Linked DNA regions of Homo sapiens: all the other regions are linked to region 1. Evidence: fine-mapped expression QTL. A gene starts in region 1. Each other region holds a variant in brackets. All regions are shown on one strand. Distances are from middle to middle. Region 1 holds the start of LIMS2 (LIM zinc finger domain containing 2). Region 2 overlaps LIMS2 (LIM zinc finger domain containing 2). Region 3 holds the start of MYO7B-AS1 (MYO7B antisense RNA 1). Region 4 overlaps MYO7B (myosin VIIB). Region 5 has its middle 18 kb from the start of POLR2D. Region 6 holds the start of GPR17 (G protein-coupled receptor 17). Region 7 overlaps MYO7B (myosin VIIB).

What was found. PIP is the estimated chance that this variant, and not a neighbour inherited with it, causes the effect.
Region 2: its variant is fine-mapped to the expression of LIMS2 in lung (TOPMed, PIP 0.94).
Region 3: its variant is fine-mapped to the expression of LIMS2 in whole blood (INTERVAL, PIP 0.97).
Region 4: its variant is fine-mapped to the expression of LIMS2 in whole blood (TOPMed, PIP above 0.99).
Region 5: its variant is fine-mapped to the expression of LIMS2 in whole blood (INTERVAL, PIP 0.98).
Region 6: its variant is fine-mapped to the expression of LIMS2 in tibial nerve (GTEx, PIP above 0.99). The same link has a PIP of 0.9 or more in aorta, atrial appendage, breast, esophagus mucosa, esophagus muscle and gastroesophageal junction.
Region 7: its variant is fine-mapped to the expression of LIMS2 in whole blood (INTERVAL, PIP above 0.99).

What each region holds. Positions count from the first base shown.
Region 1 is chr2:127,673,485-127,677,546 of GRCh38, reverse strand. It overlaps LIMS2 (LIM zinc finger domain containing 2), which reads left to right and starts at 2,017. Exons shown (of 10, transcript NM_001161403.3): 1 at 2,017-2,533. The coding sequence starts at 2,523.
Region 2 is chr2:127,640,020-127,644,081 of GRCh38, reverse strand. It overlaps LIMS2 (LIM zinc finger domain containing 2), which reads left to right. Exons shown (of 10, transcript NM_001161403.3): 5 at 1,010-1,159; 6 at 1,883-2,033; 7 at 3,094-3,186; 8 at 3,764-3,812; 9 at 3,937-4,012. Among named protein-coding and RNA genes, the nearest start is that of GPR17, 4.1 kb to the left of the region's middle. The variant G/C (reference allele first, on the strand shown) is at 2,348.
Region 3 is chr2:127,627,150-127,631,211 of GRCh38, reverse strand. MYO7B (myosin VIIB) reads right to left here. Exons shown (of 48, transcript NM_001393586.1): 33 at 3,902-4,028; 34 at 2,677-2,840; 35 at 1,386-1,567; 36 at 304-434; 37 at 1-6. It overlaps MYO7B-AS1 (MYO7B antisense RNA 1), which reads left to right and starts at 428. Exons shown (of 3, transcript XR_923314.3): 1 at 428-837; 2 at 1,653-1,775; 3 at 2,699-4,062. The variant C/G (reference allele first, on the strand shown) is at 2,143.
Region 4 is chr2:127,632,656-127,636,717 of GRCh38, reverse strand. It overlaps MYO7B (myosin VIIB), which reads right to left. Exons shown (of 48, transcript NM_001393586.1): 40 at 3,355-3,460; 41 at 2,429-2,542; 42 at 2,035-2,122; 43 at 1,492-1,598; 44 at 811-996; 45 at 394-510; 46 at 90-173. Among named protein-coding and RNA genes, the nearest start is that of MYO7B-AS1, 3.9 kb to the right of the region's middle. RefSeq lists enhancers at 1-865, 3,162-3,391 and silencers at 3,662-3,711, 3,812-3,901. The variant G/A (reference allele first, on the strand shown) is at 1,605.
Region 5 is chr2:127,838,126-127,842,187 of GRCh38, reverse strand. It overlaps the pseudogene ZFP91P1. Among named protein-coding and RNA genes, the nearest start is that of POLR2D, 18 kb to the left of the region's middle. The variant G/TAAATAAAG (reference allele first, on the strand shown) is at 2,196.
Region 6 is chr2:127,645,645-127,649,706 of GRCh38, reverse strand. All of the region lies in intron 4 of LIMS2 (LIM zinc finger domain containing 2), which reads left to right. GPR17 (G protein-coupled receptor 17) reads right to left here and starts at 3,554. Exons shown (of 2, transcript NM_001161417.2): 1 at 3,463-3,554. RefSeq lists an enhancer at 20-747. The variant G/A (reference allele first, on the strand shown) is at 1,640.
Region 7 is chr2:127,617,143-127,621,204 of GRCh38, reverse strand. MYO7B (myosin VIIB) reads right to left here. Exons shown (of 48, transcript NM_001393586.1): 27 at 739-865. Among named protein-coding and RNA genes, the nearest start is that of MYO7B-AS1, 12 kb to the left of the region's middle. RefSeq lists an enhancer at 957-1,006. The variant C/G (reference allele first, on the strand shown) is at 2,056.

The sequences.
Region 1 (4,062 bases):
GCTCATGTCACCTCAGGGCTGTTGCACTTGCTGTTCTGCCGGAATGCTTTTCCTGCAGATGGCTGAGGGCTGGCTCTTTCCCTTATTCTGGTTTAGCTTGAATGTCACCTGCTCAGAAACTTTCCCTCACCCTTCACTCTAAAGCAGCCACCACCATTGTCCTTTTCTTTGCAGCACTTACCCTTGTCTAAAATCTAGTTTGCGTATTTATTTATTTGTTTATTGCCCATCCTCCACCTCCTGCTAAACTCCATGAGAGCCTGGTCCATGGCTTCTTTCTCCCCCTAGTACTTCCAGTGCCCATGCGGTATAAATACTCTTGAAGGAACAAGTGGATAAGTGTGTGAATGTGTGATTGCCAGCTCTTTCCTGCAACTCTGCCCTCTTGGCTGAACTGTGGGAGGCTGGCCCTGGCTCCTTGAAGCCTCTGCATCTCCAGCAGGGCTAAGCCATGCCCACAACCCCTACCAGCTGTTACTGAGCTTGCCCTGGCCCAGGGATGAGGCACACTGGGAGCTGCATAGGGTCCTGGTTTGGCCACATACAGATCCGTGTGTGCTCAGCTATCATATGCAGGGAGGCTTTTGGGCTAAAAGGCAGGAATGTGGTCTCCTCTGTGGAGAGCATGGGCCTCTGGTGTAATGCTTTCAACTTTTCATCCTCTTTGGTTCCCACAAGACCCTGATATTCAATTAACCGTCCAGCAGTGGATTTCTGGTGCACGGCCCCAGCATGCCTACACCTCTGTGTCAGTAATGGTGGAAAGCCTTTCTCCCTGTATGAGCAGGTGAGCCAAGAAATTATCCATACTTAAGCTTAATCAACCATCAAATTACAGTTAAGCCGAATCAGCTGAGACACGCTCGCAACAAGAAGTAATAACTCGAGACAGTCGGATCACCTGAGGCCAGGAGTTTGCAACCAGCCTGACCAACATGGTGAAACCCATCTCTATCAAAAATACAAAATTAGCTGGGTGTGGTGGCATATGCTTGTAATCCCAGCTACTTGGGAGGCTGAGGCAGGAGAATCGCTTGAACCTGGGAGGCGGAGGTTGCAGTGAGCGGAGATTGCACCATTGCACTCCAGCCTGGGCAATAAGAGCGAAACTCCGTCTCAAAAAAAAAAAAAAAAAAAAAGTAACAACTGCAAAGGCACTCCACAATACCAGCCACTTAGGAACAGGTGTCTTTTCCCAGCTTATTTCTGCAGGTGGAACTGCAGGATACTATCAACTCATCTTTCTGAACGGCACCAGTTTATTTGTGGGTTGCTAATTCACACCGTCATTTCTAGATCATCTTTCTCTGCTGCCAAGACCGGAGTAGCACCACATTTACACATCAGGCCGCCCAGCTCCCAAACCTCAGTGTGACATCTGGGCTGCTTCCAAAGATGAGCTGCACGCCACTGTCCAGCTGGAAATATCTGCCTTTAGGCAGGGCGGGGGTTTTTTGTTTTGTTTGTTTGAAAATTTCCTCCGAAGAGATTCCCTAAATAGTTTATATTACCCCTCCATCTTAACGCCTCTAATGGTAGCTTCTCAGCGCTTCATTATACAGAGGCGTGCCTGGTTCCCCTGGAAACCTGGGAGCTGGGCATTTGGTTTTGTCGTTTAAGAAATATCTTTCGCCAAGTTAGGGCGATGGCCCGCAACGGGGGATGAAATCGGAATTTCCCGGGGAAAGCAGCTTTGCGACTGAAGAGGGACGCCTCTCGGCTTTAGCCTCCCTGGGGGCGGGACTGCGTGGACTCGGCGGTCCCGGGTGCCTCGGGAGGGAGTCAGTGCCCAGATCCGCGGTGGGAACTCCGGGCTAGGAAAGCCCGGGAGGGAGGTGGTCTCAGCATCGCCCCCACGCCTACCATCTCCTGCACGCGTTTGCGGTTGGGGCGGCCCAGGGACTGCAGAGGGGGCGCCGGGCGGGGCGTCCCGGCGGGGCTGTGGGGGTGGGGGTGCTTGTTCGCGTTTATTATAACTTTACTCCCTTTAAAAGGAAAGCTATGCCCGGAATCCAGGAGGTGGCGAGCAGAGCCCGGGTTGGGAAGGACTTGACCCGCGCCCGCCGCTGGCCGCGCTCCGTGTCCCTGGAGCTGGGGCTGTGCGGGAGCGGGGCCCACCCTCTACCTTTACCCCTACTTTTACCCCCACTCCCACCCCCGCCTCACTCTCACCCCTCCAACCCCACCGTCAGCCCCACCTTTAACCCCCACCCCTCCAACCCTACCCGCCGCCACCCCCACCTGCCACCCCCACCCCCACCTATACTCCCGCAACCTCCCACCGTCACCTCCCCAACACCCCCACCACCCTCAGCCTTGACCTCCCCATCCCACCCCGCCCCGCGGGCCCCACCCTGCCACCCCCGCCCACCCCTCTCGCGGGCGGAGCGGCTCTTGGCCTTTTTTGGGCGTCTCCCTGCTCCGCGGCCCGGGCTGGCGGGCGGGCGCTCGGCTGGCGGCTGCAGCAGCAGAGGGAGACCCGCGGCAACCCCGGCAACCCAGGGCTCGGCGTCGCTGCCACCATGACGGGAAGGTAACGGCCCCCACCCACGCCCCCGGGCCGGGGAGGCGGGACTGCGGGACCCCTGGCCGAGGCGCAGCTCGCCCTCGTACAGCCCCGCGGCGCCACGATCCCCGCTCCGCCCTGGCGCGTCGGATTCTCGCAGCTGCCGGGGCGGCAGCGCCCGTCGGGGCAGGGGTCCCCCAGCCCCCGCGCCTCTTCCTCTGGGCGAGCGCCTGCAGCGGAAGGTGGAGCTCCTGCCCACCCGCCCGCTGCAAGATGGGACAGCCGTCTGCTCACAACCGACGCCCAGGGCTGCGGGAGGGGGTCTTGTCCAAGGTCAGACACCAACCACGGGCAAAAGGTTCAAAGGTTGCGTGCCTCCCCCAACTTCCCCGAGCCCGCGCTGTGCGATCCCCGATCCCGGTGAGTGTCATCTCTGGAGCCTTCCGTTTCCTCCTCTGTAAACCTGGGGTGGTAAAAATGTTAAAAATGTTGAAGGGTATGTTGGAACTTGGCCAGAGCTGCGCCCAAGCACCAGCTGTGCAGGGGTTGGTTGGGGACAGGGCGCTCCCCTGGGCCTGGCCCACCCTCTGCTCTCAGGCCCCTCGTTGCCATTTCACAGATGAGGTCACCAGAGGCCACAGAGGCTGAGCCACTCAGGAGGCCAGTCACAGGTCCACCAGTGTCCGGCCAGTGTTTGTCCCTGCAGCCCTTTCTGGAACCTAGCTGGGTACAAGTGCATGACTCAGGACTGGGTGGGAGGGGGCTGTCCCTGAGGCCCTGGTCTCCCCCAGCCAAGTCCTGGCAGGGGGATGCTGTTCTTCAGGATCCCATGACCTGGGGCTCTTGGGGAGCCCCAGCCCGGAGAGTGACCTGTGGCTTTGCTGGGGAAAGGGGCTTGGAGGGTACAGGGCAGTGTCCAGGATTGCAGTCTCAAATCCGAGGCCCACAGGGGAGCTGCCTCTGTGATCGCCATTAAGGCTGTGGCCTGGGGTCTCAGGGCAGCCCAGGAACCAAAAATAGCCTGTAACTTGTCACTTTGTAAGTCCTGCCCTCCAGACACACTTCCCTTTCTTCTCCCCAAGCCTCTCTTCCCAGTTAGCTCCCCTGACTTGGAGTCACCTCTAAGCCTTGGCCCAGGCCCCTCTGCAGTGAGATGGAGGGACTCATCCCCCGGAGAGTGGCATCTGCAGGCCCACTGGCTGCCTGTGGTCACCCCCTAGGGTTCTAGCGGGGCTGCCTCCCATTTTCCTCAGAGCATCCCTGCCAGCTGGCTGGTTCTCACTCTCCTGTTTTCTAGGAAAAGAAAGTGGGGAGAGACAGGAACAGGGTCCGGAGCAGCCCCAGCAGCAGCATTGAGGTGGAGGTGGGTGAGAGGCGGTTCCTTCAGGCACAGGAGGGATGTCGAGGAGAACAGAGCCGTGAAGGGTGCGGGGCTGGAATGGGAGGCCCCGAGGTGCCACTGCTCCCTGGCAAGGGTCCTCTTGCCCCTGAGTCCCTTGGGCCTTTCCCTGGAGACGGAGGCCGTCAGGTGAGCCCGGCCGGAACCGCTGGGAAGG
Region 2 (4,062 bases), 33 kb after region 1:
CCAGCAGTAGCAGGTCCTGGGGTCCAGGGAGGGATGCTGAATGGGTGGCCCTGGCATCTGGGGTCTGCCCACCATAACCTGGGTGGGGATCTTGGGTCTGCGATTGGATCTCTTCCGTATCCTCCCTGACCAGCCTGTCAGAGGGGCCAACACTGGGCGTCGGGCAGCCGTGGAGGCTCGTGAGGAGTGGAGAGGGCCCCTGGGGCTGGGGGGCCTGGGAAGGGAGGCCTGGATGCAGCAGGAGCACCAGAGAGAGATTCGGGTGGCAGGTGGAGACGGGGGCCAGGGAGGTTGGATTGGGGCCTTTGTGTATCTTTGCCTGGGGACTCTGAATCTAGATTCCTGCCACCTTTGAGGTCCAAGGAAACAGAAACCATGTTGATTTGTCTCTCCGTTGAGAACACAGCTGTCGTCCAACACAGCGAGTAGCATCAGAAATTATTCTGAGGTCTTCACAAAAAGACTCTGTAGTGACAGTTCCTGGGTTTGGGGGCCTCCATCTGACATAGCAGTGCTTGTCTTTGGAGACAGAAATCGCCTGTACGTGTTTGGGCCCTTCTTCATCTGGCAAACCCCGAAGGAAGGGGGTGAGTGGGCCTCCCGGGACACTCACTGGCCACTCTGCTGGGCACAGTGACACTCATTATAACTCGTGTGTGTTAAATACATTGGGAAAATAATGCTTTCAGCAGATATCAATTAAATGTCTACTGTATTCTGCAGCATGCCCCAGGCTTAGAGAAAGTAGAAAGAGGAAAATACCATCCAGAGACAGTAACCTCGAGCATTCTGGCATCTTTCCTGCTGAGCATGCGTCCCATTCCCAGGACACACTTGTGACCTTCTGGGCCTTGTGACAGGGCAGTCTGCTTTCCCATACCCTGGGCTGAGCCCCTTTGAAGCCCCCAGCTGCTCAGTGAAGTTGCAGGGGTCTGGCCTCTCTTCTCCTGGAGGTGGCCAGGCTGTGTGGGAGTGGGGGCTCTGCCCCTAATGCCCCCGCCTCCCGCAGGCATCTCTGCCGGCCTTGCCACAACCGTGAGAAGGCCAAGGGCCTGGGCAAGTACATCTGCCAGCGGTGCCACCTGGTCATCGACGAGCAGCCCCTCATGTTCAGGAGCGACGCCTACCACCCTGACCACTTCAACTGCACCCACTGTGGGTAGGTGCGCAGCCCGGCCCTGCAGTTGTGGGGGCGGGGAGCCAGGGCTGGCCCAGGGTAAGGGCGGTGGGGCCTCCACCTGGGGAAGTGTTGAGGAGGGAGAGGGGAGCAGGGTGGGCAGACAGAGGGGTCCCGAGAGCAAGGCTGCAGGGCAGAGGTGGGCTGGGGGCTGGGAAGCAGCCATGGCAGGAAGCTTCTCTCTCCAGGGCTCTGTTTGGGGGGCACTTGAGACTCAGGAGGCGGGTGGGCTGGACCCCTAGACTGCAGACGAGGGTTGAGATGGAGCAGTGGAAGGGACCTGAGGGGGCAGGGCAAGAGACCGGGAGTGGGCTTGGTGCTGGTGTTGGAGAGAGGAGTTGCATAGGCAGCCCCTCAGCCCCCGTCCTCGCCCACCCCCACCGTCCCCTCCAGTCCTCTCCGTGCCTATCCAGACACCCCCTCTGGTTTGGAGGAGGAGGGGGGCCCAAGAACAGACCTGCTTCTCAGAGGCCTGGGTGCAGAACACAGCCCACTCTTCTGGGCTGTGCAGGAAGTCTGTGCTCCAGGGCCTGTCTGGGGCACAGGAAGTCTTCAAAGTGCCCAGAGATCAGAAGGCGCTGCCGCCTCGGCTCTGCAGGGACAGAATGGGCCCCTCGGGGAGCCGTGCCCTGGGGTGGAGGCGCTGCTGGCATGACCCTGCAGAAGGGCAGGGGTGGCACCTGGGGGCTGCACGCTGTCTTCCAGGAAGGAGCTGACAGCCGAGGCCCGCGAGCTGAAGGGTGAGCTCTACTGCCTGCCCTGCCATGACAAGATGGGCGTCCCCATCTGCGGGGCCTGCCGCCGGCCCATCGAGGGCCGAGTGGTCAACGCGCTGGGCAAGCAGTGGCACGTGGAGGTGAGCCAGGCTGGTGGACACGTGGCCTCAGGTTGGGGGGTGCCCCAGCTCAGGGTCATGGTAAGAGCCCTAAAGCTCCTCCACACTCCCAGCCCAGGGCGGGTGGCTGGCTCCCAACGAGGCCCTTCCTCAGGGGTACTGCCCCTCCCTGTGCTCAGCCAGGGACCCCAGCCTGCCCACGGGAGCCAGGAGACCCGAGTGCACACACACGGTTGGGTAGCTGTGCCCACCTCTCCTCTTCCCCCTGCTGGCATTCTAAGAGACTCCAAGGTCAGGAGAAAACCTTGGGGGCAGTCTGTCCAGAGTGCCTGGGG[G/C]TTGTGGATGACAGAACCCGCTGCATGGACAGCCCTGTGCAGACACGGAGCTGAAGAGTTCCTCAGGTGTGAGCACTGGGTCACCTGGAGTGCCCCCACCGGGTGGTGGGCTCTCATGTTCTCATGGGTACACTGGGAACAGTGAGCCCACCACCTCCCCTGATGACCTGGCCAGCGCTGTGTCCGGAAGCTGTGCCTTGGGTGGCGGCTTGGGTGGGAGGCCATGCGGTCCTGCCCTGATGCAGGCCCCAGCCCCCAGCCCTCATCCTCACATGCAGATCCCTGGGGGAATGCAAGGTGCTGCTCAGTGATCCCAGGCTTGCAGGGGGTGCCTGCAGGAGGCCCCACGTGGACAGGCAGGGCCGCCTCTGCCTATGAGGGCCCACCATGCCGCAGCACCAGGCTGGCACCTGACTCCTGGGGCTGAGGCTGCCGAGGGGGAGGCCAGACTGGGAGGGGATGGTGACTCACAAGGTTACCATCAGTGCCTTAGAGGAGGGGTAGGGTCTGCTGACCCCAGGGCATTCACAGAGGTGTCAGTCCCCTCTGCCCAGTGTGAATCCTGAAAGGCCTGCACCTGCCCAGACTCTGCTTTCTGTCCCCTTCTGTCACTGCTGCCTCCTGGGGCCACTGTGGTCCCCTGGAGTCACTGGCTCCTGGGGTCACTGTTGTCCCCGGGTCACCACTGTCCCTCGGGGTCACCGCTCTAGCCCTGATGCCACCCGGCCCGCCCTTTGTCCTTGCAGCACTTTGTCTGTGCCAAGTGTGAGAAGCCATTCCTGGGGCACCGGCACTATGAGAAGAAGGGCCTGGCCTACTGCGAGACTCACTACAACCAGGTGAGCCCGGTGCAGAACCTTCAGGGATGCGGGTCTGGAGGGGTGGCCAGGAGAGCTGCCGTGAGCAAGGGAGGCTGTGGGCACCCCCTCAGGAGCTCTGCCAGGTGCTGAGCCCAGGCCTGCACCCTCAGCCCTGGCTCCTGGCCTGGGGTCTCGAGACCTGGGCAGCTCTCTTCAGTCTCAGTGTCTTCCTTTGAAGAATGTTCTGGGGCTGGTGTGAGGTCCCGGGCACATGGGGCTGACAGTGCCAGCAACCCCCTCCCTCCCTTGCTCTGGTACAGAAGGCAGGGGGCGCTGGTGGGATGCAGTCACCACCTGGGCCCACCTCCTTGCAGGACAGCAGTGGCCAGAGCAGAGGGGCCTTCTGGGGAGCAACGCCCCAGCCTGTTGTCCTTCCCGGAAGGGTGGTTCTCATGGGTTGCCGTGCCCTCAACCCAGCCTTGCAGCTGGGCCCTGGGAGGCAGGGCCTGGGAGATGCCTGAGAGGGGCCGTGTTGGAGGGCCAGGCTGGCTGCATGATGGCCCTGGGCTGGGGTGTGACTGCCTGCAGCTACTCTGACAGCCTGCTCGGCCCACAGCTCTTCGGGGACGTCTGCTACAACTGCAGCCATGTGATTGAAGGCGATGGTGAGGCCCTGTGTTCCCTCCCCCACCCCACCTGCTCTCCTGGGGCCTGGGTGCTGCAGCTGTGAGCCCAGCCGGGCCTGCGGCAGCCTAGCCAGGCCTGCTGAGTCCCACGCTTCCCTCACAGTGGTGTCGGCCCTCAACAAGGCCTGGTGTGTGAGCTGCTTCTCCTGCTCCACCTGCAACAGCAAGCTCACCCTGAAGTGAGTCCCTGTGATCGTGGGATGGGGCTCAGGGTGGAGGGGGCTCCTGC
Region 3 (4,062 bases), 46 kb after region 1:
GGAGCCCTGTGAGGTTAGAGGCTGGTGTGAGGCCTGCCCTGTGGCCTTCTCTGTCCCACGCTTCTCTGTCCTCTGACACCCCTGAGTGGCTGTGGGAGGGCCAGAGCACCCCACCCTGCCGCAAGCCCCTCCTGACTCCCCTGGCCTGGGAAGGCCAGGCAGGCTCCACATGGGTGGCGTGGCCTCTCTGCAGCTCTCAGTGGGTGCAATGAGGTGGAGCGGGGCTGGGAGCAGGGGGTGCAATGAGGTGAGGTGGGGCTGGGAGGTGGGGGTGCAATGAGGCGGAGCGGGGCTGGGGGGCACCTGAAGAACTCATAGGAGAACTCCTCCAGGGTGTGCAGCTTTTCCTTGGGTGGCTCCTCAGGACGTGGCTCTGTGAACTGCCCCTCCTGAGCCGCCAGCTTCCTCTTCTCTGGTGACATGGCAAGCAAGCTCTGAAGGGGGCACAGGCCTGTGGGTGCCCAGGAGCCACCGCCCATGAGGCCCTTCCTGCAGGCTCCTCCCGGCCTGGCAGCCTCAGTGACTTGGGAGGGGTCAGGCCCAGGGCTGAACAGGCCAGGGCTTACCCACACCCCTGTCACCTGCCGTGTGACCCAGGACCATGACTCTACCTCTTGGTGCCTGTCTCCTTTCCCTTGGGAGGGTGAGTGCCAATGGCTGTGGCACCCACATCACCCGTTCTGGGGGCCACGGCACTCTGGGTTTCTCAGACCCCCAGCTCCCCAGCTCCCCTTCTCCATGGGGCCACCTCTCACCCCAGCCCTGCCTGCCTAGTCTGCCACCAACTTCAGGCCTCAGCACAAATGTCCCTCCCTCGGGGATGCCTTCCCAGACAGGGTAAGTTCCCCACCCTATTATTTGTTCCTCTCCTTGGTGGCACTTTGCACAGTTGCCATCCATGTGTCATTATCTGCCCAAATGTCTGCCCTGAGGGTGGAGCTGCTATTATGCCCAGACTCGTACCACAGGCACAGGGCACATACTCAGCACTCAGTATGTACATGTTGCAATGCCTGCCATTCCTGCCTCCGGAGAGGCTGGTCTTGGGGGCTGGGGTGGGTGGTTCCCTTGTGCAGGGAGAGACTTGAGTCCCCCTGGGTCAGAGTGTAAATGAGGCAGAGAAAGATTGGGTTTGTCCCCCGGACACCCCCATGATGGAAGAGGGAGGGAACACCCATTTATTGAGGACCTACTAAGTACCAAGAGCTGGGCTGGCACTGCACACACACCTTGCCGCAGGAATGGTGGGGGCTGCCCGGGTGGCCCTCCTGGCCTCTGCTAGGTGGGCTGCAGGCCCTGAGCTAGGCCTCCCAACTAGGCATCCCAGGACTGCTCCACCCTGACCTCGGGTACCCAGGCTGAGGACAGGGGAGCGTGCCAGTTACCAGCAGCTGTGCCGAGGGCTTAGTGACCGTGGGGATGGTGTAGAGGCAGGCCATGGGCACCAGCCCCGTCTTGCCTGTCCTGTCGTTCTGGCCGAGGGTCCAGTTCTCAGAGGCCAGCAGCCCCTGCTTCTTTGTGAGGACCAACAGGTCCCCCTTCTTGAAGGCCAGGAGGGTGGTGTCATCTGTAAGGGCAGGGAGGCTATTTGCTGAGGGCTCTGCAGGGGCCAGAGGCTGTGCTGGAATTTTGTGGGTCATCTCCTTTGACAGATGAAACCGAGGCATAGAGTGGTGGGCAGAAGACCACTCCAAGAGTGAGCGATGGTGGGACTGGAACCTCAGGGGCCTCAGACGGCTGTCACCTGCTGCAGCTGCACAGGCACAGAGCCCAGGGTGGGTGGGGGCTCGAGAGCTCTGACTGCAGCCCTAGCCCTGGGAGACCCTCGGAGGGCTGACCAGGAGCCAGGGATGAGGGAGGGGAGGATGCACAGGCTGGCAGTCCCCACGCCTGGCCTGAGTGCTGCCTGCCTCTCTAGACCCCTTCCTTATCTGGAATTTGGAGATGGCAATCCTCTTTCCCTCCTGCGGTGGCCGTGAGGACTGAATGGGGCGATAGGGCAGCACATCTCGGCTGACATTTCTCACTGCCCAAAGACCCCACACACAGCCTCTTCTGCTACATCCCAACCAGCACCCCCTTCTGAAGTCCCTGCACTAACCACACCACCCACCGCCCATGACCACCCGGCCAGCAGGCTGG[C/G]CCAGCGGGGGTCCTGGGGCTTTGCCATGCTCCCCCATAGCCCACAGACACAGCCCAGCTCTCGATGGAGTGCTGGCTTGTGGGAGAGCTGTGGCCAAGAACTAGGCTCCCACCCCCTTGAGCTGTGTGACCCTGGGTGAGCTACTTCCATCTCTGGGCCTCTGGCCTCACGTCTGTAAAATGGGATAATGGGGTGCTTTTGCAGCAGTGCGCTGTGGGGATGGTGTTCAAAACTTCCCTGGGCTGGGGGCTGGCCTTTCTCAGTGCTTCTGCAGCAGTGCAGCGCTGAGCATGGCTGGCCTATGCAGGGCTGGAGACCACCTCCTTTAGCCCCTCATTTTGTAGAAGAGGAAGCAGTGGCTGAAAGAAGGCAGGGCCTTGCCTAAAGCTGCCCCCACAGAGCTTTGGGGCCTTCCCTCCCTCTGCTTGCCTTGTGGCTGCTGTGTGGAGATGAGCATGCCACCTACCTACAGACCCCATGCGCGGCCCTCCCCCACCCCACCCCACCCCACCCCACCCCACCCAGTCTGGCACCTGTGGCCTTCCTGTCCTGCAGGGCCATGGCGAAAATGGACCTCTCCTTCAGGCCCTCCAGGAACAGGGCCACCAGCTCAGCGATGGCCACACTGCTGGGTGACACAAACTCGTACTCCTCATGCATCGTGGAGAGCAGCAGCCTCTGCCCGCCCTGGGCCTCCCTGGAGATGAAGGACAGCGTGACCAGGAGCCCCCTCCACCTTCCCCTGATCCAGCCCCTAAACAGCCTCGGGAGGTGGGGTTGGGGGTCCTGAGTCACAGATGAGGACACAGAGCTGCTCTGCCAGGGCCAGGACTAGGCCAGACACCACTGTGGGTCTGGACAAATGAAGGACGGCGGAGCACAGGACCTCTCGGAGGCTGAGAGTGGTGCAGCCCATGTGTGGGGTTGGCTGTGGGCAGATAATGAGGTGGCTGGTGTGCAGTGACACCGCAGGGACACTGCAAAGGTCAGAGCTGAGATGAGCTGCCGGCTCTGCCATGTGCTTACTCTGAGCCACCTAACCTCGGCGTGCTTCAGTTTACTCATCCGCTCATCTGCAGAATGGGTGATGCTGTCGGTACTTCGTGGCATACAGGAAAGTGCCCAGCATGGTCAGCCTCAGTGAGAGGTGGCCAGTGGGGAGTGGTGGCCACTGTACACCTGGCACAGCCCAGAGATGCATGTGCCACTCTGTTGTGTGCTTCAACCAAGGGGCGCTCTGGCAGGGCTTGGGTGGGACTTCCCAAAGGGCATGGAAAAGTTCCCAGTCAATGAGATCCATGGAGACCCATGGGAGTGGGGGTCAGCCCCAGCCTAAGAGGACCCCCAGCCCTGCCCTGTGCCCCAGGACACACCAGGCACTGTCCCTTGTCGCCTTCCCAGACAACCTGTACCCTCCAGGCCACCAGTTCTCGTCCATGACAAAGAAAGGAGCCTTCTAAATAAGTGCCCGCCAGAGGCTGCACGCTTCCCTGCCCCTTCCGGGTGGACCTGGGTTTCAAAGAGAAGCTGCCAGTGCAACGCGTGATGCCCCAATGGAGTACTTCATGGGCAGTACGGCCTGGTGCAGGAGGGTGGGGCTCCGAAGTACAGAAGCCATCGCATACGTAGATTCTTGTCCCTCCACCCCGGCCTGTTACCCGGGACGGCACACTGCCCCTCTCCCCATCTCTCCCCGAGCCCCCAGATGCATCACAAGGACTCAGTGTGTAAGAAGAGATCTTCCCTCAGGGCCCGCACCTGTTGGTGGCCAGACCCATGACCTCTGGGAAAGAGAGTTCCAGCAGCATCTTCTCCTGCTGGTCCAGGAAGCAAAGCCCCTTCCAGTTAACAGCCAAGATCAGCTGCGTCTTGGGCAGGCGGGGGCCTGGCCAGGAGAGACGGCAGTGTGAAGGCTGCAT
Region 4 (4,062 bases), 41 kb after region 1:
CAGGACACACCGCAGAGATGACTGCAGCCCCACCTGCACAGGTCCCTGGACCTGGTGGCCCCCAGCCCCTCCGGAGGCCCAGCAGCTACCTTGGTCTTGGGGTGGATGAGCAGAACCCCATGTCGGTTGATGGCGATGAGGATGACGTCCGGGTAGGAAGGCTCCGAGGTTTGCTGGGAGGGAGGGACACGGCGGTCATAGTCCAGCCCGGGAGGCCAGGCTGCACCTCCCAGGAGCTCATCTAGGCCACACGCACATACACACATACACCCACGCCCTCCAGCCTCACGGCCAGCCCCACCCAAGATGTGTGCTGGTTGACGCTGGGCCTGCTGGGGCTGGGCTGAGCGGAGCCTGCTTGGGTAGGAGGCCCTGGCGTGGGGCAAGGTTTACCTTCACCTCGAAGAAGGCGGATCCGAAGGTGGGCCACCGGCAGATCCACTTCAGGAAGGCCACCTTGGCCTCCTCCACTGTCTTGTCCTTATGCTTGTCATAGGCTAGAAGGATGCTCTGGGGGACAGGAGGGCCAGTAAGGACTTGGGTGCCCAGAGGCCCTCCAAAGCCCTGGTGGGGGCAGCACCTGCCTACCCCAGGGCTAGTACGGTGGGGAGGGGAGGGGAGGAATGCAGCATGGGACAGTCTCGGTGCTGTGGATGGCATAGGAAGGCGTGGTGTGTGCAGAGCCAGCCCACCCTCCACACCACCCATGTGCACCCATGTGATCTTGGAGCCCAGGCAGGGCATGGCACTGGTGCAGGGGCCCAGGGAGGAGCAGCAGCACAAGAACCCTTCCCCAGCCCGACCAGGGACCTTTTTCCACTCCTCCGAGGACATCAGGCGTGTGAGGTTCTCAGGCACCAGTTCCCTCAGGATCTTGGGGACACTAGCCAGCTGGGACCGGTCGTTGTTGAACTGGGCCTTGTAGATGAGGCCCGCCAGGTGGATGGCATCCTCCCGCGAACACTTGTGGAATCCGCGCAGGTACTTGGGCAGCTCCTGGGTGATGGACACACTGGGCATGCTGGGTCTCCAGCTGCGGCCCACCCGCCCCCAACCTCTTTCCCGCTCAGATGGTGGGGAACTGGGGCTTAGCCCACTCCATCCAGGACGGACTGAGCAGGGTAGAGAGTTTCAGGCCAGGGGAATGACCCTGAGTCAGGGCAGGGCCCCCTGACATCTGCGTGGAGGTGATGGCCTGCTCCACCCATGTGGTTGGCCCTGCAGGCCACGGCCACTGCTCCATGGGTCACAGGACCCTCTGTCCCACCCTCTCCAAGTCATGCTGCAGGTGCCAGTGCAGTCACTGTCCCCAAACATTGCTGCCCTCTGCTCCTGGTTCCAGAGCCCTCAGGGGCTTGGTCTGCCTACCACATGGGCTGGTACCCAGGGCTGAGGCTGGCCCTGCCCTGGCCTGCTGGCTTCTACAGCCTCAGAACAGGTGTGGGAAGATGGGGGTGGCCCCAGTGCCCACCAGGGCAGCCTGCCCGGTACCTGGTGGTAATGGAGTATGGTGTCTGCATTCACATCCTTCCCTGGAGATATGTTGAGCCACAATTTCCGCATGAAGTACACCTGGTAGGGGAGCGTCACGGGGGCCCCTGGGC[G/A]AGGGCCAGCAGTGGGCACCAAGCCTGTCCCAGCAGGTACACCAGCCCTGACCCCCTGCCACCCCCCACACTGCGCCTGCCACCTCCCTGCCTCGAAAGCCCCCACGCTTCTTCCTCCCCAGTCCCCACATTTTCCTTCAATATTAGTGTAGAGGCTGCCTTCTCCAGGAACATTCCTGGACTCGCACTCCCAGCCCATGAGGGTCATGCCCCTCAGCCCTGGGGCATCCTTCATCACTCCAAGGTGCAGCCACCTGTTTCTGCCTGAGCTGGCCCTCACCGCCGGGCCCCAGGGCCTGGTTGTTCCCACAACCCAGGGACACACGGGAACGAATGGATGGATGAATGGGCATGGGCCGCACAGAGGCCGCCAGTGCCCCCTCGACCCACCCAGCCACGCCCTCCCCCAGCTCCACAGAGGCCTCCTCACCTTCTTTCTGGGGCTTGTTCTTCTTCACCCAGTCAGACACCTCCCTCAAGGAATCAAAGAAGAAGTCTCCCTCCTTCTGGCTGATGACCTGGGGAAGGGGAAGGTACAGGGAAGTTGGGTGGCTTCCGGGGACTGTCCTCCTGAGAACCTGCTGGGTTCTGGTCCAGTGGCCGCCTACGGCCTGGGTGCTGCGCTGGAGTCGGCTGTGCGTGGGCTATTGGCGTGTGGAGCTGGCTCTGCTCCAGGACCCCACCTACCTCTGTCCCAGCAGCCCTGGCCGTGCAGCCTGGTCCAGCATGGGTGCCCCTGGTAGGCTGAGGCCCCCACAGGCAGCACCTAGGGCCTCGCTCACTGCCCGTCCGCCCACCGTCTGCCCAGCCCCAGCCCGGCCCACCTTGTCTGAAATCTTGATGAAGAGGCTGCAGCCCTCCCAGGAGGCCAGCTGCAGCCTGGTGGCAATGCTGTCACACACATCCCGCACCCGTGTGTTGGCAACCACCTCCAGCATCTGGACAGAGAGGCAGCTGGTGAGGCCCGGGGCCTGGCTAGGGGCCAGTACAGCCCAGGATGAGCCTTCCTAGCCTGGCACTTTTGCTCCTTCATGAAACTTGGGTTGGATGTGGTCTGCCCTGAGCAGGGCAAGCCTCCCTTCCAGAACCCTGGCCAGAGGTTCATGTTGTTTAGTCCCAGCATTCGCTGTCCTGGGGCCCTGCAGGCCTGGCCTTTTGACTCGCCTTGAGAGCCCAGCAGCCAGACTGTGGGAACTTCCTGTTACCGGGACCCGAATATCAAGGCCAAAAAGACCATTGTGCTGTTGGAGAGGGCGCGAGGCGACACTGCCCACTTTGGCCTCTCAGCCCGCTTGTCTTTGCTGCCCCTGATCAAGGCCTCTGTGTCACGGTGGGGTCCTGGTGGTCTCCTACCTGCCCCCTGGCCCCTTTGTTCCCCCAGCAGCCATGGCAGGCTCTGTGCACAAGGCACACACAGTGGGAATACCTGCTCTCCTGCACCCCAGATGGTCAGAAGCCCCTAGGGGCCCCCAAGTCCTGGGACTCACCCTTGCTGCCCACCCCTCTGTCCTCTCCTGTGTCCTGGGCCTGGATCCCCCAACTCATACCTTGGGACTGGCCTGACTTCCAAAGCACCCAAGGGCAGGTGGGGCCTGCATCCCATGGGGAGAGGGCGGGAGACTGGTTAGGATGGGACAGCCCTAGAAAAGGCTCTCTGGGGTTACCAAGGAGCAGGCTGGGCCAGGAAGGAGGATGCCCCATGGCCTCTGGAGGCCTGAGACTTGCCGTGCAGACCAGAGCAGGGCCTCACCTCACTGGTGTCATTGGGGAAGTAGATCTTGTGGCAGATGCGGGAGACGTTCTGCTCTGCGGCCTCCACCTCCACCTGGTGCGGGGGCTGCTTCCGGGGCCCCGTCCTGAGGGGGACAGCGTGTGCTGCAGGTGCCACCCCCACCCTCATCCTCACCCATGCCCCAGCCCCGATGTGGGCCCTAAACCATGTGCCAGAAACAAAAGAAAACCCCAGTGACCATCACTGGGGTGGTTCCAGCCCCTCGCATGTCCTGGGGGCTGCCCCTGGCTCCACGCGGCCTCAGAGGTAGTGATGGTGCAGCTGTGCCTGAAAGCCTGGGGCACACACGGGGAAGGGCCAGGCCAGGGGCTCCCGGGAAGGCGCCGGCAGGAAAGGCTGGCAGTATTCTTATTCTCGCACAACAGGGGCATCGGGCAGGGGCCAGGGACTCTGGCAGGGCCTCTATGGGGCGCCCACCTCTCTCTGTGACCACGGCTGCCACTGAAATTATGGCCACTCCTACAGTCAACCTGCCCTCCTCACGGCCACAGGAGGCCAAGCCAGAGGAGGCAGGAGGGGTGGGGGAGAGCAAAGACGGCCAAGGAAGAGCTTCACGGCTGTGGGCGGATGAGGGAGGCCGCATGGACTTGGAAGGATGGGCCTCTGACCTCAGCCTTGAGGGCCTGGGCTGGGGCATCCAGGTTTCTCTCTATCCCTCAGGCAGTG
Region 5 (4,062 bases), 160 kb before region 1:
ACCCGCTACCACGCCCAGCTGATTTTTGTATTTTTTTAGTAGAGACAGGGTTTCACCATGTTAGCCAGGCTGGTCTTGAACTCCTCACCTCAGGTGATCTGCCTGCCTTGGCCTCCCAAAGTGCTGGTATTATAGGTGTGAGCCACCACACCCGACCATAAGTTTAAAATTCTCATAGTCACATATGGTGAGTGACTAATGTATTGGACAGTGCAGCTCTTAGCTACCAACAATGACCTGCAGGGCACTGAGATCAAAGAGAATTTCAGCAAGATGAACAATGCCCACAAGAGCAGCAGTGATAACAGGAACATTAATCAAACGTCGATCCCCCAAATTCTGAGATCAAAAGATGCATGTCACTTTCACTGAGTCCTATATTTCGATGTACCCTAAATTCTGTTTTTAGAAGTCTGCCTCTTCGGCCAAGGCAGCTCCTGACAAGCCCCCCAACAAAGGCCGCCTGAGGCGGCGGTGGCGCCTGCAGGGACCACTAGCAGCCGCGGGCTGAGGGGAGGTCGGGACCGAGGCAGGGCTGCTGTATCCCACCAGAGGAAGGCCGAGTATCCCAGCGCGGGAGGAGCAGCCCCCCGTGCCAGGCCTCCCGATGTCCCCAGGCAGCAGCCCCAGGCTGCAAAATCCCTACCTCCAGTTCAGGGCAAGAAGAGTCCACGACTCCTATGCCAACAACTGATAAAGATTGCAAAGAAGAAAAAGAGGAAGATGATTCTGCCCTCCCTCGGGAAGTTTACATTGCTGCATCCAGACCTAGCTGGGGATGGTGCAGTAGGAGCAGGACATGTGTTTCTCCTCATGGTGATACAGAGAACACCTGAAGCTCTCGGTGCAAGACTGGTTCATTGCAGCTCATCTGCAAATCAGAACCAAGTACAGACCAACTCGATTATGATGTTGGAGAAGAGCATCAGTCTCCAGGTGGCATTAGCAAGGAGGAAGAAGAAGAGATTAATCAGTGAAGAGGAGATGCTATTCAAAGTTGACCCAAGAGATGAGACCTACAAACCCCTCTTAGAAAGGGAAACCCCAAAGCCACGCGAAAATCAGGGAAGGTGAAAGGAGAGAAGGAGAGGAGGGAAATTAAAGTGGAAGTAGAGGTAGAGGTGAAAGAAGAGGAGAATGAAATTAGGGAGGATAAGGAACCTCTGAGGAAGAGAGGAAGAAGATGGAAAGATGGCAGAAGTCCACATTTACCCAGAAGGAGAAAAAAGCCTGCAACCCAGTATGTCCGTTGTGAGATGGAAGGATGTGGAACTGTCCTTGCCCATCCTGGCTATTGACAGCACCACGTTAAATAGCATTTGTTGAAGAAAAAATACGTATGTCTGCATCCCTCCTGTGGACTACTCTGTAGGCTCCAGAAGCAACTTCTATGACATGCCAAACATCATACAGATCAAAGGGATTCTGTCTGTGAATACTGTGCTCAGGCCTTCAAGAGTTCCCACAATCTGGTAGTGCACCAGATTGTTCACATTGGCGAGAAGCCGTTATTACAATGTGAGATCTGTAAATTTACTTATCGGCAAAAGGCGTCTCTTAATTGGCACATAAAGAAGCATGAGGCCGGGCGCGGTGGCCCATACCTGTAATCCCAGCACTTTGGGAGGTCAAGGCGGGTGGATCGCCTGAGGTCAGAAGTTCGAGACCACCCTGGCCAACATGGTGAAACCCCATCTCTACTAAAAATACAAAAATTAGCTGGGCGTGGTGGTCCATACCTGTAGTCCCAGCTACCCGGGAGACTGAGGTGGGAGAATTGCTTGAACCCATGAGGCAGAGGTTGCAGTGAGCCGGGATCATGCCACTGCACTCCAGCCTGGGCGACAAGAGTGAGACTCTGTCTCAAAAAGATAAATAATTAAGGCCGGGCACACGCGGTGGCTCACGCCTGTAATCCCAGCACTCTGGGAGGCCGAGGTGGATGGATCACGAGGTCAGGAGATGAAGACCATCCTGGCTAACATGGTGAAACCCCATCTCTACTAAAAATACAAAAAATTAGCTGAGTGTGGTGGCGGGCGCCTGTAGTCCCAGCTACTCGGGAGGCTGAGGCAGGAGAATGGCATGAACCCAGGAGGTGGAGCTTGCAGTGAGCCGAGATGGCGCCACTGCACTCCAGCCTGGGCCACAGAGCGAGACTCCGTCTCAAATAAATAAATAAATAAATAAATAAA[G/TAAATAAAG]CAAAAATTAAAGTCTGCCTCTTAGTCCAGGCGCGGTGGCTCACACCTGTAATCCCAACACTTTGGGAGGCTGAGGTGGGCGGATAACAAGGTCAGGAGTTCAAGACCAGACTGGCCAAGATGGTGAAACCTCGTCTCTACTAAAAATACAAAAATTAGTTGGGTGTGATGGCGGGTGCCTGTAATCTCAGCTACTCGGGAGGCTGAGGCAGAGAATTGCTTGAACCCGGGAGGCGGAGGTTGCAGTGAACTGAGATGGCACTGCTGCACTCCAGCCTGGGTGACAGAGCAAGACTCTGTCTCAAAATAAATAAATAAATAAAGTCTGCCTCTTTATCACTAATGCTGTCAAACAAAATTATGAAAACTGTTTTAAGGAAACATTGGGGAATAGTGAAAAGATTAATCTTTTGATGATAACCTTTTGTTTGTTTGTTTGTTTTGAGATGGAGTCTCACCTCCCGGGTTCAAGCCATTCTCCTGCCTCAGCACCCGGAGTAACAAGGATTACAGCCACGCACCACCACGCCTAGCCAATTTTTATATTTTTGGTAGAGACGGGGTTTCACCATGTTGGCCAGGTTGGGCTTGAACTCCTGGTCTCAAGTGATACGGCCACCTCAGCCTCCCAAAGTGCTGGTATGAGCCACTGCACCCAGCCAATAACCTCTTTTCTAATTAATTTTGCCTTTTCAGTGGGCATATAACCTGTCTGTTGAATTTCAGTCTGGGCACCATGGCTCATGCCTGTAATTCCAGCACTTTCAGAGGCGAAAGCAGGAGTATTGCTTGAGCCCAGGAGTTAGAGACCAGCCTGGGAAGCATAGCAAGACCCCGTCTGATTAAAAAGCAAAAAGAAGGAAAGGAAGACAGAAGAAGGAAACAAACCCAACATGTTCACCTTTTAGGTTTCCAATATCTATATTTTGTAATGCTACTAATATGGGCCCTGCACAGGAATACTTCCAGATTCACAGACTGATGTCTTTGTAAATTCAGACCAACTTCTGTTTCCCAAGTCATATAAACACCCTGAGACCATGCATGTCCCAAATGTATTCTCCTTATTAATACAGAGTTTAACACATCCTCATATTCAAAGGGAACTGGAAGTTATGAGATATTTGAAAACCAATACTTTTTAAACTCAGCAATGACAGAAGAAATAAACGATGGAAAGACTTGATCATGTAAAAATTTAAAACTTAAAAGTCACTTTTTTTTGGAGATGGTCTCACTCTGTTGTCCAGGCTGGTCTTGAACTCCTGGGAAACCACCCATTTCAGTCTCCCAAAGTACTGGGATTACAGGCATGAGCCATTGCACACAACCAAAATCATTAACTTTTTAGGAAGTCAATAGACTGTCTAAAGATTTGATAAGATGTATAGCAGAGAACACAGACAAGGGTGAGGATATTTATTTGTGGCTGGGCGCGGTGGGGTGGCTCACACCTGTAATCCCAGCACTTTGGGAGTCCGAGGCGGGCGGATCACCTGAGGTCAGGAGTTCAAGACCAGCCTGGCCAACATGGCAAAACCTGGTCTCTACTAAAAATACAAAACTTAGCCAAGCGTGGTGGTGGGCAACTGTAATCCCAGCTACTTGGAAGGCTGAGGCAGGAGAATTGCTTGAACCTGGGAGGTGGAGGTTGCAGTGAGCTGAGATTGTGCCATTGTACTCCAGCCTGGGCAACAGAGCGAGACTCCATCTCCAACAACAACAACAAAAAGATGTGGGCTGGGTGCAGTGGCTCACGCCTATAATCCAGCACTTTGGGAGGCCGAGGTGGGAGGATCACGATGTCAGGAGTTCGAGATCAGCTTGGCCAACATAGTGAAACCCTGTCTGTACTAAAAATACAAAA
Region 6 (4,062 bases), 28 kb after region 1:
CCACCCTCAGCAGAGAAACCCACTCTTGTTTTGATTTTAGTCAACTCAGAAGATTGAAGAAGGAGAGTGAGGGTCCCAAACACTCTGCCTCCCCAACCCAGGCCTGCGAGTGGCAGTGTGGGCAGGCGGTGGGGCCAGAGCAGCCCGCAGCCCGGAACCAGGGCAGGACAGCGCACCTGGCCTGCCTTTGAATTGGGGTCACCAGCGGGCTTCGGCCAGGTGGGTGCTGATGATGGCACAGCTTCTGGGGCTCCTCTGGGCACCTGGCTTCCCAGTATCCACCATCCCCACCCTGCACAGCCAGGCTGAAGCAGAGGCTGGAGAGAGGTTTGCATAAGAGAAGCTGGCATCCTGCCTGTGCCCATTGTGGCAGCAGGAGGGGAGGAGGCACGGGCCACAGCCCTGGCAGGGTCCTCATCCTGGGCGAGCCTGGCTCTGCACCGAACAGCCGGGGTCCTGCCTGCAGCAAATTCACTCTGCACATTTCTCCCTGCCCTTCCTTCCTTCCTTCCTTCCTTCCTTCCTTCCTTCCTTCCTTCCTACCTTCCTCTCTCTCTCACTTCGCTTTGCTTGTTTGCTTGCTTTTCTTTATTTTCCTTTTTTCTTTTCTTTTTTCTTTTTTTCTTTTCTTTTTCCTTCCTTCCTTCCTTTCTTCTTTTCTCTTTCTTTCTTTTTCTTTCTTTCCTCCCTCCCTCCCCTTCCTCCCCTCCCCTCCCTCCCCTCCCCTCCCTCCCCTCCCCCCCTCCCCTCCCCTCCCCTCCCTCTCTTTTTTCTTTTTTTCTTTCTCTTTTTCAAGGTCTCCCTCTGTCACCCAGGCTGGAGTGCAGTGGTGCAATCAGCTCACTGCAGCCTCAACCTCCAGGGCTCAAGTGATCCTCCCACCTCAACCTCCTGAATAGCTGGGACTACAGGCGCACACCACCACACCCGGCTAATTTTTGTATTTTTTGGTAGAGACGGTTTTGCCATGTTGCCCAGGCTGGTCTCAAACTCCTGGGCTCAAGTGATCCTCTCTCCTTGGCCTCCCAAAGTGCTCCTTGGCCTCCCAAAGTGCTGGGATTACAGGCATGAGTCACTGCGCCCAGCCCCTCTCCTCTTACTGATTCCACAGGGCTGTCTCAGGATGCTGGTGGCACGGGGCAGAGAGGGCATGGTGACTGTTCATGGACACAGCAGCCCCTCGAGGAGGAGGCTGGAGCCATCCTCATATGGAGGAGAAGCAGGCATGGTGGTGGCCCTAGCCCTAGGGAAGGGTGGGCCGCACCCTTCCTTCAGGAGAGCGAGTGGCCAGCTGCTGTGGCCCTCACATGGAGGGTGAGGGCTGGCCCGAGCACCTGGCCATCAATGTCCTCAAGCAAAGGGGAGGGCAACTACCTAATAATATTACCTTTTAGCTATTTCTCTAGGCAGGTTCCCCTACCTGAAAAGATTGCCCCCGGCTTCAGAGTGTTTCAAGATGCCTGAAGTTCTAACACCAGAGATGGTTTCCTGCTGCTTCCAGGAACAGGGTCTGTTCTTAGTCCAATGTGGAGTTCCTCATGGGGACCCCATTCCCCAGGAATCCAGGTTCCACAGTACTCTGACTTGGTCTGGCTGGTCTCGGCTGGCACTTTCCCTAGGACTGCTAAAACCACGGTGA[G/A]GGCGGAGAGCTGAGGGCCGAAGAAGGCGGGGTGAGTGATGCTTGGGAGAGGGAGACAGGCTTGGCTGAAGCCCTGGGGAAGGGCTGAGGGCTGTGAAGGGGGCTGTGGAGGAGAGGTAAAAGGAGGGAGGAACACAGCCCTTGACAGGGCCTGTGAGGCAGGGGAGAACAGGGAGCAGGTACCGGTGGGACGGTGGCAGGGGAGGGGGGCCCATGACTTTGAGGGTGTCGTGTTGCATGTGCTGGGGGTGAGGACCCGGAGACTGGAGGAACAGGGCTCCAGGGCAGACGCATGGGCAAGCAGAGAGGACAGCCCATGGTAGATGGGAGGGGCACACAGGTGTGCTGTTTTCAGGTTGGCAGGAGAGGAGGAAGGTGTGTGCGGGGAGGCCCTGGAGACTGGAAGAGGAGAGGGGGCCCAGTGAGTGAGGGGCCCTTGTTAGAACCTGGGGGTGGGAAGGGGCCAAGGTGGGTGCCCTCCACCCCAGGCTGTCCCTCAGGCCTGTGCTGTGCCCCACAGTGCAGGCATCACCTGGCCCCACGAGAGAGCAGCTCATAGGTACGACTGACCACTCTGCCTGGCATGGTGGGGGCCTGCCTGTGCTGGCTCAAACCAGTTTTAGCCCCATGTTGCAGGTTAGGGAGTCAAGGCTGAGTGTCTGCTAACTTGTCTTAGGTCACTTGACCAGGGGACATTGGCCCTGGAGCTGGAAGTGAGACCGGGGAAACGGTCTCACTCCCTGGAAGACCGCCAGGGTGGGGAGTGTGACTCAGTCTCAGAGTTTGCCATGGAGTTGTCTCCCAGGCTCAGCACCCCCTCCTGGCCCTGGGGCCACTCCCTCATTTTAGGGGCCCATGTATGAAATGAGAATGTGCAGCCCCTTGCTCAAAAAGGAAGAGTTTCAGGACAGTGACGGCAGAGTGTTACTGGGCTCAGGGCCCTGAGTGACGGCAGGGGTGGCATATCTCATGGCACCAGGTGGGCCTGTGGTGCCTCCTGCCTCCAGCCCGGGGGCCTCAGCCTGGGCACTGCCCTCCACTTCCTGCCCGGGCCGAAGGGCGTGCCCCTCGCTCTCTCTGGGACTGAGACTCCATTTTAAACAGCTTTCTGGTTGGTTTCAGGTTTGCTGAGGTTTCTTCTCCCTTTCTGTCCCCCGTTTGAGGAGTTCTGATACTGATTGTTGCAGTTTGGTCTGAGATGGGCCCCGCTTCACTCTCTGTTGCCCTTTAGAAACACAAACTTCAGTCTAGACTCGCTGGTTCCTCACGACTCACTGGTCAGACGGCCACCGAGCCGGTGTCCGTAAGAGGAAAGGGCGTGGCATGGGCCGGGGCCTGGGCAGTGTTGGGTCCCGTGGCTGTGGGTGAGTCGAGCATCTAGGACAGGTCATAGGCCTCTGTGGAGGTGGCAGGTGGGCATGTGTGGCCTCGGGGAGGGCCTGTGGTGGCAGCGCCATGGCCAGGTGGTGGCAGTTTCCTTTGCATTAGCGCCACTCCATCCCTGGCCCGAGCCCTCTCCCAGGCATCTGGCTCCTCTATGGGTCAAGGCTGCCTAATGGTTAGGGGCAGCGGTGCTGTCATTGCAGCCTGGACTGCCGGCAAGCCACTTCCCCTCTGCAAGCCCCCATCAGAGGGACGAAACACCGCTTTGTGGGCTGCTGTGAATTCAGACTGTGGTCAGCCTTCGATGCACAGGTCAGACCATCACCAAAGAGATGGGACGAGACAGGCTGCTGCCTGTCTCCCTGGGCAGGGCTCCCCGCTGAGTGTTTCCTCTGCTTAGCCCTGGGCTCCCAGTCCACCCCACCCAGCCTGCCCCTTACCTCTAGCTGCTGGTCCGGGAGGAAGGGACAGGGGTCTGCGGGGCAGCAGGTGATCTCCGCCCGTGGGTGTCGGTGGTGGCAGGGGGCTCCTTGCCGCTGTGGGTGGAACGCTGGCTATTTAAGGAGAGGAAGGGAGACCACAGCCCCTCTGGCCCTGAAAGGCTGCTTCATTCCTGAGGGGTCCCTTGTTGTGTCGGGCTGCTCCTCTGGCTGCTGCTGCTGCTGCCACCGGAGCGTGAATATTCTAGTGTGTCCCTAGCCCATGCCCCCCGCCCCCAGCTTGGCCACATAGTCTGAGTGTGTGACTGTCTCAGAGACTCAGAGCAGGCGGGGGCTGGGTGGGGGGCTTGGGCTGGAGCTGAGGGACACAACAGGACGTTTCAGAAGGGGATGATTTCCTACTGATGGGGGGCAGGGAGGGGCCGGCTGTCATGGCAACAGGCGGCGCTCCCAGGCCTGCGCCCGCAGACGGCGGAGGGGGCCTGTGAACGGAGGGTGGGAGGCCGAGGAGTCTTGCTCACGGAGTGAGAGGCGACTCTTTGAGGACACTTGCTGTAGGGTCCTTGTGTCCTGCCCTGTATAATGAGGCCCCATTTGGGC
Region 7 (4,062 bases), 56 kb after region 1:
TCTTTTTGTCTCACAGAGAGATGTTATTTCTTCTGCCTTGGGGTGGGGAGGAACAGCCTGGAAGGGTTTACTGGTGTCAGGAGCAGCCTGAGTGCCATGCGCAGATGGCTTCAGTGACCGTGGTTCCTGCTGTCCCCAAAGGGACATGTGAGAAAGTGTTTTCTGTTTGATCACAAGGACCCTGTAACACCACAAAAGGCCAGAAGGAAATATTAACGGAAGTTAGCTCTGAGTGTGGGGGTGACTTTTATTTTGGTTTTAGATGTTCTGCATTTCCACATATTACTTTTATAATCAGAATTTAAAGGCATATTAAATCAGTGAAGCTTGGGGCCACTAACACTCGGCCAACCCAGCTCCATTTTCAGTCCTAAGAACTAGAAAGAGGTGCCGTGGCACATCTCCAGGCAGGGCCCACTCCTGGACACCTGTCTTTTCAAGGCCCGTGTCATCTACCTTCTCATTTTAGTCTTGAAGCACCATCCTGACACCTGAGCCAAAGTGAAATGGCCCTGCAGACCCTGCGTAGGGGCTGGAAGGAGCCAGGAGCAGGGTCCTCTTTTCCAGATGGGGAAACTGAGTCCTGGAGAAGCATAGGCATGGCTGCCCATCTGGCCTGCAGGAGCAGGAGAAATGGGCCACGTACTGGAATCTGTGGACCTGCTCCAGGGCCAGGGGCCACCTACGCTCCCACCAGAACCTGCCCCCTGCCCGCCCTCCCTTCATGAACCCTCTCACCTTCATGAACCTCTCTGAGGGTGGGAAGCAGCCGAGGCAGAGGCTGAGCAGGATCCAGCCCCGGGCCAGGCTGCTTGTTTTGAAGTTCTCCGAGAGCTGCTTGCAGATCTGGCAGTAAATCTCATCCCTGAAAGACACAGACCATTAGGAGAGTAGGCTGGGGGCTGGAGGAGGAGAGGAGACAGGGGTACCTGGGCACACAGCTCTTGTGCACCTCTGAGAGGTCCCATATGCAGGGCACCTCTCCAGCGCCGGGGCCCTGCCCAGCCTCCTCCTCTCTCAGGACAGTGCCACCAGGCTCTGCATCCCTACTCGATTCCTCTCCCATGGCCTGTGCTCTCGGTCCTTTAGGGTGGGGCTCGGCTTCAGGAAGCAGCAGGTTCTCCAGCCACAGCCCTGTCCTCAGCAGCCGCGCCCTTTGCACAGCCCATCTGCTCCCAGATGTGCGGGATCCCCAGTCTCACGGTGATTACAGTCATTTCTCTCTCTGCCTTGAGGCCCCACCTCCCTCCCTGAATGCAGCCCCTCCCCTCCACAGCAGAGAGAAAAGTGAGGACTTCATGGGAGCCACTCAACCCCATCTCCTGACCATTCCTACTCCCACGGTCTGTGGAGCCTCCCCACTCCTGGTGGGGGTGTGTTGGGGGCGGTTCTCTCCTGCGTCCTTCCCCATGGACTCAAGCCTCTATCATGTTATAAAAGTGGCCCATTAACACCTCAAATGCCACATCTCCAGAGGCCAGCATCTTTCCCCTAATACTCAGTGGTGTGCTGGTAAATGTTTATCAACCAGCTCCCCCAAGAAGAAAAGCCCAATTCACAGCATTTGCTTATTTCTGTGGTGTACATGTTCCCACCAAAGCCAATGTCAACTGCGACACGACATCACCGAACAGAGATGGGAAGCAATGTGCATGGCTGGCTCTCTGAGTTCCTGCATCCCTCCTCTTTCTGTGGTCTACAGGCATCGCCATCAGCCATTCACCCAAACTGGAAATCTGGGGGTCATCCTGGAGCCCTCCCATCCCTTCATTCCTCCAATCCAACCAGCCCCCACCATCCATCCAGCCCCCACCACCCAGCCGGCACCCACTACTCAGCTGGCGCCCACCACCCAGCCGGCCCCCACCATCCAGCCCCCACAACCCAACCAGCCCCCACAACCCAACCACCCCCCACCACCCAGCCAGCCACCACCATCCAACTGGCCACAACCCAACCAGCCCCCACAACCCAACCACCCCCCACCACCCAGCCAGCCACCACCATCCAGCTGGCCACCACAACCCAACCAGCCACCACAACCCAACCGGCCCC[C/G]ACAATCCAGCTGGCCACCACAATCCAACCAGCCTCTACCATCCAACCAGCCCCCACAACCCAACCAGCCCCCACAACCCAACCAGCCCCCACAATCCAACCAGCGCCCACCATTCAGCCAGCCCCCACAACCCAACCAGCCACCACAATCCAACCAGCCCCCACGATCCAACCAGTGCCCACATGCTACCATCTGTCTCCTGCATGTTTCCTCTGTCCCCTCCTCTTGGCTCCTGTTCCTTGGGCAATTCCTCATCAGCTCTCTCTGGATCTCTGTAGCAGCCCTGCCTGGCCTCCCAGCCCCAGGCTCCATCCTGCCACATCGCCAGGGAGGTCTTTCTGGAAGTCAAATATGATCAAGATCCTCTCTTGCTTAAAACTTTCCCCACTTCCCTTAGGATGGAATCCAAGCTCCATGCCCCAACAATGGCAAACCACTCATAAATTCCAGACCCTGTGGGCTGTCTCAAGGGTGACTGATGCAGGCCGAAAGAGTGAGGGTCGTGATCAGCTCAGTATACCACTGGAGGCTATATGAGCAAACAGCAAACTGTTCTCATAAAAGCAGAATGTTGGCAAACTGACAAACTGCGTCTGCCGCCCAGAAGGAATGCTGAGGGCAGTCACGACCCAGGCACAAGTGTTTCTTGTGATTATCTACAGGGCACACCTGAAGCCTGTTAGTAATAATATGAACCTGTGATCAGTTAAGCAGCTGACCAATCGTTACCTCCTCCTCCCTGCTTATTCTACCCAATAAATACTAAGGGCTGAAGAAGCTTGGGGTGGGGGCTGTCTTTGCTTACTAGGAGTAGGGAGCCCTTTTTCTTCCCCTGGCCCCTTTAAAACAGTTTCTTTTGTTTTAAGTTTTCATTTCTACGTTCATCCCCCTTCGTTCCGTCTCGTAATGACGGTCTCAAGTAGTGACAGTAGTAACTCCCGTAATGACGATCTCAAGTAGTAACAGTGGCAAATTGCTGCAAGTGCTGCCTGGACAGGGACGTAACAGGGACAATCAGGGACAAACAGACCTGAAGGGACCTGAAGAGGCCTGCAGGGACAAATAGAGATAAGTAGGGATAAATAGAAATAGAGACAAATAGAGAGAGCTAGGGAAAGACAGGGACTTGCGGGAACTAACAGGGACTATAGGGACAGATAGGGATAGACAAAGACTAGCAAGGACTAGCAAAGACTAGGAGAAACTTGCAGGGACAGACAGGAACAGATAGGGACAATAGGGTCCTATAAGGACTTGAGCGAGGAAGGTCTGCTGGAGCAAAAAAAAAAAAAACTAAAGCCCAGAAAAAACTAAAACCAACCAGATGAATAAGAAACCCCGTTACAAGGCCGGGCGCGGTGGCTCACGCCTGTAATCCCAGCACTTTGGGAGGCCGAGGCGGGTGGATCATGAGGTCAGGAGATCGAGACCATCCTGGCTAACAAGGTGAAACCCCGTCTCTACTAAAAATACAAAAAATTAGCCGGGCGCGGTGGCGGGCGCCTGTAGTCCCAGCTACTCGGGAGGCTGAGGCAGGAGAATGGCGTGAACCTGGGAAGCGGAGCTTGCAGTGAGCCGAGATGGCGCCACTGCAGTCCGCAGTCTGGCCTGGGCGACAGAGCGAGACTCCGTCTCAAAAAAAAAAAAAAAAAAAAAAAAAACCCCGTTACAAGTCTGCTGGCAGCATAAGGTCAGTGCTTTAAAAAGGTACTGGTCAGTGTCCTAGAGGTACAAAGAACGGGAAGTTTTTCAATCAGGGTAACATGGGGAAGAATTTGGTTCTCTTCTCTTTTTTGTTTGGAGTTTGGTACATACCATTTTCTTGTCATTTCAGGGTTTGAGAGAATTTTTTGCCCCACCTACAGCACCTATCGAAAGTGGTGAACGGGAGAGGAAGGATGAAAATTGGCTTGTACCGTCTTCTTTTGCAGCTACAGAAAGGCGAACTTTAGCTTTGTCTTTCGTGGCTTGTAAACGTGCGCTGGTACCTGTGAGATGTGCAGAGG